Linked DNA regions of Homo sapiens: region 1 is linked to region 2. The links come from fine-mapping of genetic effects on gene expression. A gene starts in region 2. The other region holds a variant in brackets. All regions are shown on one strand. Distances are between the middles of the regions. Region 1 has its middle 52 kb from the start of LAT. Region 2 holds the start of CDIPT (CDP-diacylglycerol--inositol 3-phosphatidyltransferase).

What was found. PIP is the estimated chance that this variant, and not a neighbour inherited with it, causes the effect.
Region 1: its variant is the best candidate, but not a certain one, in a credible set for the expression of CDIPT in cerebral cortex (GTEx, PIP 0.83).

Annotation. Positions count from the first base shown.
Region 1 is chr16:29,035,762-29,038,665 of GRCh38, reverse strand. It overlaps the pseudogene NPIPB10P. Among named protein-coding and RNA genes, the nearest start is that of LAT, 52 kb to the right of the region's middle. The variant T/G (reference allele first, on the strand shown) is at 1,628.
Region 2 is chr16:29,861,931-29,864,834 of GRCh38, reverse strand. CDIPT (CDP-diacylglycerol--inositol 3-phosphatidyltransferase) reads left to right here and starts at 1,609. Exons shown (of 6, transcript NM_006319.5): 1 at 1,609-2,020; 2 at 2,115-2,249. The coding sequence starts at 1,978. It also overlaps the pseudogene CDIPTOSP. RefSeq lists an enhancer at 951-1,488 and silencers at 1,537-1,596, 1,607-1,916.

The DNA of each region.
Region 1 (2,904 bases), 830 kb after region 2:
CGCAGCCGCATGTCCTGGTCCTTTCAGGGCGCCCTGAGGCGGCCAGGACAGAGGTGGAGGTGGCTTAGGGCAGGGGGGAGGGAAGGGGACGGGGACCGGGGCGGATCTGAGTTGGGGAGGGGCAGGGGAGGGGGAGGGGAAGGGGAGGGGGAGGGGAAGGGGAGGGGAAGGGGAGGGGGAGGGGAAGGGGAGGGGGAGGGGAAGGGAAAGGAGAAGGGGGCTGTTGGGCACCTGGAGGAGGTGGAGGAGGAGGAGGAGAAGAAGAAAGGGGTCTGGGAAAGGATCCGGTTCAAATTAAGTTCTCAAGCGCTGGTGGAAGGTTTAGCTACAGGTCACGGAGAAGATCAGGGAAGCAACAGGACACGCGGGGCAAGGGAGCGTGAGGCTTAGGAGCAATCAGAGGGAGACAAAAAGGTTCTGCTATCCGCCAAACCTTCTTCGGTCTGGGCCCTCCCTTAGCAAACCTGGGGCTTTATACTCCCTCTCCACCAATCCCTGATGACCCCGGTGGTGCCTCACAATGGACAATGCCAAGTAGCGCCCGCATCATTCCAATGACCCCTCCCCCATCTCAGTCTCCCACACTCCTCGCAAGGACAGGTCCTCTCTGGAACCTTCACAAACCTGATTTCTGGTCCTCCCCAACCAGCTCCCTGTCCCTGCTTCTGGGCGCTCCTTCCTTCCTGAGCTCCCAGGGTTCCTCAAGGTCACTTTTGGCGACAAAACATAAAAAACAAATGATGGCAGGATGGCAGGAAGAACCTCATACCCAAGCAGAGTGCCAGGTTTTACAGCCTCCGCTCAGCCATTCATATCCTAAGCAACAAAACATCAGCAGGATGCGGAAGGTCCTGATAGTAAACCATCTCCATCACATCCATGTAGCCATCCGTCCATCAACCTGTATCTCAGGAACAAATGTAGATACATTCATTTTAAGCATGCATGGTACATTTACAAAAATTAACCTGACTTATTTTGTTCCAGCAAATCTCAATATATTTGAGAGCAATCAAATCACACAGCACGTTTCTGATCATATAACTGTGCTAGAAGTCAATGATTAAAAGCCAATTCAAAATTATTATTTGCTTGGAAATTCAAAGTGCCCTTATAAGACATAAACATAAGAAAGAATCCAAAATGAAACAAGATTGCCTTTCAACTCAATGATAAGATCATAACATGGCAATAAAATGTCTCCCTCTGACCTGGGAATTCCTCTTTGTGGCACAAGGTTGTGTGATCTCAAATCACCCCTAACCCACCTAGACATTTTAACATCCGAAACCGAGTGATGATGTCCTTATCTATATCATCTTACTGCCTGTGTGTGTGGACTTTAAATTCTGAACCCAAATGAGGGGGAGAAAACCAAGTTGACCTTCATGACTGACCTCTCAGGGATGTCCAAGGAATCTGTGCATTTCAAGAAACAAAGTTCATCAGCTTCTCTCCTAAGGTATTTGCCCACAATACCCAGAGGGCTTGGCAGCATCATGTGTGATGGGTGGGGAGCTCCAAGCAGGTGGGCAGGACCCAGGGGTCTGGTGACCAGGACAGACCCCCACTGTCCATCACCTTTCCTGACCCTGTCCTCAGCTAAACTTCCCACAGGCCTTCTGCC[T/G]GATCACACAGAGTGTGCCCAAACTCACTCAGGCCTCTGGCAGCTGAAAACCACTGCTTTAAATCCCTTTACCATTTACTATGACATAAGGTTATTGTAAACAGGAAATATTCTATTGATGCTACAAATGGAAAGCCAATGCCTTTACCATAAATAGAAAAACAACCCTAAGAAACAAGCAAAACAAAAACAAAACAGGGGCTGGGTGTGGTGGCTCACGCCTGTAATCCCAGCACTTTGGGAGGCCGAGGTGGGCGGATCACAAGGTCAGGAGTTCCAGACCAGCCTGGCCAATATGGTGAAACCCTGTCTCTAATAAAATACAAAAATTAGCCGGGTGTGGTGGTGGGCGCCTTAGTCCCACCTACTTGGGAGGCTGAGGCAGGAGAATAGTTTGAACCCGGGAGGCAGAGTCTGCAGTGAGCCGAGATTGCACCACTGCACTCCAGCCTAGGCGACAGAGCGAGACTCTGTCTCAAAAACAGCAACAACTACAAACAAACAAAAAACAGGGTTAACAAAACTATGGAATTCAATTCTATTTATATGCTGCAGCCATGTTCCAGCCCTAGATTTGGCTGGGCATGGTGGCTCACGCCTGTAATCCCAGCACTTTGGGAGGCTGAGGCCGGCGGATCACGAGGTTAGGAGTTCGAGACCAGCCTGACCAACATGGTGAAACCCCGTCTCTACTAAAAATACAAAAATTAGCCAGGCACGGTGGCACCCGCCTGTAATCCCAGCTACTCAGGAGGCTGAGGCAGGACAATCCCTTGAACCCGGGAGGTGGAGGTTGCAGTGAGCCGAGATCGTGCCATTGCACTCCAGCCTGGGTGACAGAATGGAGTGAGACTCTGTCTCAAAAAAAAAGAAGCCCTCGGATTTCGGTTGTGTTGGTTGTAAAAGGAGAGACCAAGTAAGTGGGGGTTGAAGTCAGATTAGACCAAAAGTGAATGGCAGAGAGTACTATAATGTCCATGAAGGGTTGCTAGAGTCACCGTGATCATAGCCCAAGCAGAGACAGGGAAAGGAAGATGTGAGCAGAGTTTGGGGCCTCGAACATTGGAGGTTACTCGTGCAGCCCAGGAAAGGCTCCCCAAAGCCAAGATCAACCTCCCTTGCAGGCGGTCCCTCATGGAGGCATGGCCAGGCACCTTAGATTTGAGACCAGCTGTGTTGCTGCTGACCAGCTGTGTGACCCTGGGCTGGTTTCCTTGCGTACAATGGGAGTGCCAATGGCTGCATGCATGCAAAGACCATCTGAGGATAGGAGGAAG
Region 2 (2,904 bases):
TTTTTGATGGGCACAGGGTTCAAGTGGCAGCAAGCAGTGCACAAAGCCTCCTCCATGAGTTCTGCACTGATCTGGGACAGGTATTCCTCAGAACGAGATAACGAAGCCTGGGAAAGGAAAAGCCGGAGGGGTTCAGCCTGGGAGCTCCCACATGGGAGTGCTGGCTGTGGGAGTTCCCAGGCTGGGGCCTGTGGGTCCAAGGAGCTTGCTCCTGAAGGACTGGGCCTTGAGATTTAGCTAGAAAGCTCTGGACCTGGGGGAGGGGGGTTTGGTGGGGGTTTAGAGTCAGGGCCTAGTGCTGAGAGCTATGAGTCGGGGCTTCAGGACTCAGGGTTGAGGCTAGAGTCTCAGGGCCCGTGGCTCAGACCTGGCACGGGGTGCCTCTGCCTGGGAGGCTTTCACTTCATTACATTCCCACCTCTAGGGTTCCCTGCAGTGCTCACCGGACCTCCTCTCAAGGAGGGTGCAGCTTGAGATGGCCAGCTGCTCTTCTTCTCCCCCTCATTCCCCATCGGAGTGGACGCCATCCCCCTGGGAACAGTCGAAGCCTGAGTTGACCTGAGAAACCAGCCCGCTTTCCCCCAGAACCCAGTCCACCACCATTCCCCGGGCCCAGGTTTAAACAAGGCCTTTAGAGGAAACATCCCGCTGCCTCATTCCCTCTCACAAGAAAAAATAATAATAATAATAAAGGTTGCTTTATATCTTCGGGAGTGAGAGGGAACTCCCGCAACCCCCTACCCCTCACCCCTTCGCCTGGTGGGCCTCTCCTTCCTTCTTCCCTCCCAAGCACCTTCCCAAGCCGAGGCAGCCGACTTGACGCCCCAGACCTGGCAGATGGGTGGAAACCTTGGGCTACTCGGCAAAAGGAGAGACGTGGAGGCCTAAGGACCTCTGGTATAGGTCGTGGGGGATGGAGAATGGGAGATGGGGAGGAAGGCTGGAAAAGGGGGAGCCGGCTCCGTGTCGCTACCGGACGCTATAAAACCCTTGGAGTCTGCAGAGGTTCCGCAGCCTCGTTGCTAGGAGATCAGGGGTTCTAGAACTAAAGACAGAGGAATTTCCTAGCGCGCCCCGTTTGCTCCTCCAGCCTCCCCTCCGTACCCCTCCAGGTGCCTCCTTGAGGGCAGTGACCCCAAGCGCCAGACGCTTGAGAAGCTTGGGAGGATGACGTAGGGTGGAGCCTGCGACCTAATCCTCCCATCACAAGGGGCACGCGAAAAGCAACCCATCTGCAGGGCGCTCTGGAGCCTCTCTAGCCGCCTAGAGCCTGCGAGAGCAAAGGCGGCTGGAGACTTAGGGGGCGGGGAGTAAAGTGAGGACTGCACCAAATCTCCTGGCCTCTTGGGGACGCAAAGACTCAGGAGGAGGAATTTTATCGCCTTATCTTTGCCTCCAGGAAGTCATACCCTCCACAAAAGGAAAGCAGAGATTTTTATTCGGTCTTCTCTTTTACCCTTTCCTTTTCCGTTTCTAACTTTGCTTGACGTTAATGGTTCCTTCCTCCCTCTCCTCCTCTGCGCTTTGGTACGAGCCAAGGGAGAGGGGCGGAGGGAGGAAAAGGGAAAGGAAGCCGACAGGCCTTAAAGGGGCCGCAACTATTTTTTTAAGCCACTTTTTCCTCTCTCCAATTTTGCAACGACGGGCGCGGAGGAGGAGGTTCCCGGAAGCCACGCGCAGCTGGAGCAGCGGCGACCGCAGCTGGAGGCCCGGAGCGCCTGCGGGGCTGGCAGAGGCGAGGGAGGTTGCGGGTAGGAAGGGCGGACTGCGCGCGCCCCCTGCGTCCCGCGCACCTCGGGGCCGGTCCATGCTCCCGACGGCTGCGGGCTTCAGCATCTGGGGCCAGGTTGGGGCGGCGGGGTCCAGGGCGCAGGTGGTGCGGCCGATGCGCCGGGCCGGAGGCTGAGGCCGCGCTGCGGGGCTGGGACAGCACTGGCATCTCCAGAGCAGGCCCGGGGCAGCAAGGGAGGCGCCGCGATGCCAGACGAAAATATCTTCCTGTTCGTGCCCAACCTCATCGGTGAGTGCTGCCCACGGCCCCGGGCCGAACGAGAGGGCGAGGGGCCTTGGCGGGCTCCCTGATCCTGCCCTGTCTCCCCGCGTCCCGTTCCAAGGTTATGCCCGGATTGTCTTCGCCATCATTTCTTTCTACTTCATGCCCTGCTGCCCCCTCACGGCCTCCTCCTTCTACCTGCTCAGCGGCCTGCTGGACGCTTTCGATGGACACGCTGCTCGCGCTCTTAATCAAGGTGACAGACACCCCTCTCAGCCAGCCTTGGGGTTCAACAATCCCCTCCTCCCTTCCCCTGCCTCCTCGGGACCTCAGAGTCAGAGGGCTGTCATTCCCATCTCTGGAAAAAGCAGAACAGGATGGCCTGGGGCTTTTTGTTTTGTGTTTTGTTTTTTTGTTTTTGAGACAGGGTCTCGCTCTGTCACTTAGGCTGGAGTGCAGTGGCGCGATCATGGCTCACTGCAGCCCCCATCTTCTGGGCTCAAGTAATCCTCCCACCTCAGCCTCCTGACTAGCTGGGACTACAGGAGCGTGCCACCACACCCGGCTAATTTTTAAATTTTTGTAGAGACTGGGTCTTGCAGTGTCGCCCAGATTGGTCCCCAGCTCCTAGCCTCAAGCGATCCTCCTGCCTTGCTCCCAAAGTGCCGCGCCCAGCAAGAATGGACTGATTTTGTAGCAAAAGGAATTTAAGCTAGCTCTTGAGAACTCACTGCTTGTGAGAGGTGTGGATTAGCAAGACATGACATGGCGGTGGCGCTGCTGGAGGTCTCTCTGAATACAAGTCCATTCAGGCCAGGGGCGGTGGCTCACGCCTGTAATCCCAGCACTTTGGGAGGCCGAGGTGGGTGGATCACGAGTTCAGGAGTTCGAGACCAGCCTGGCCAACATGG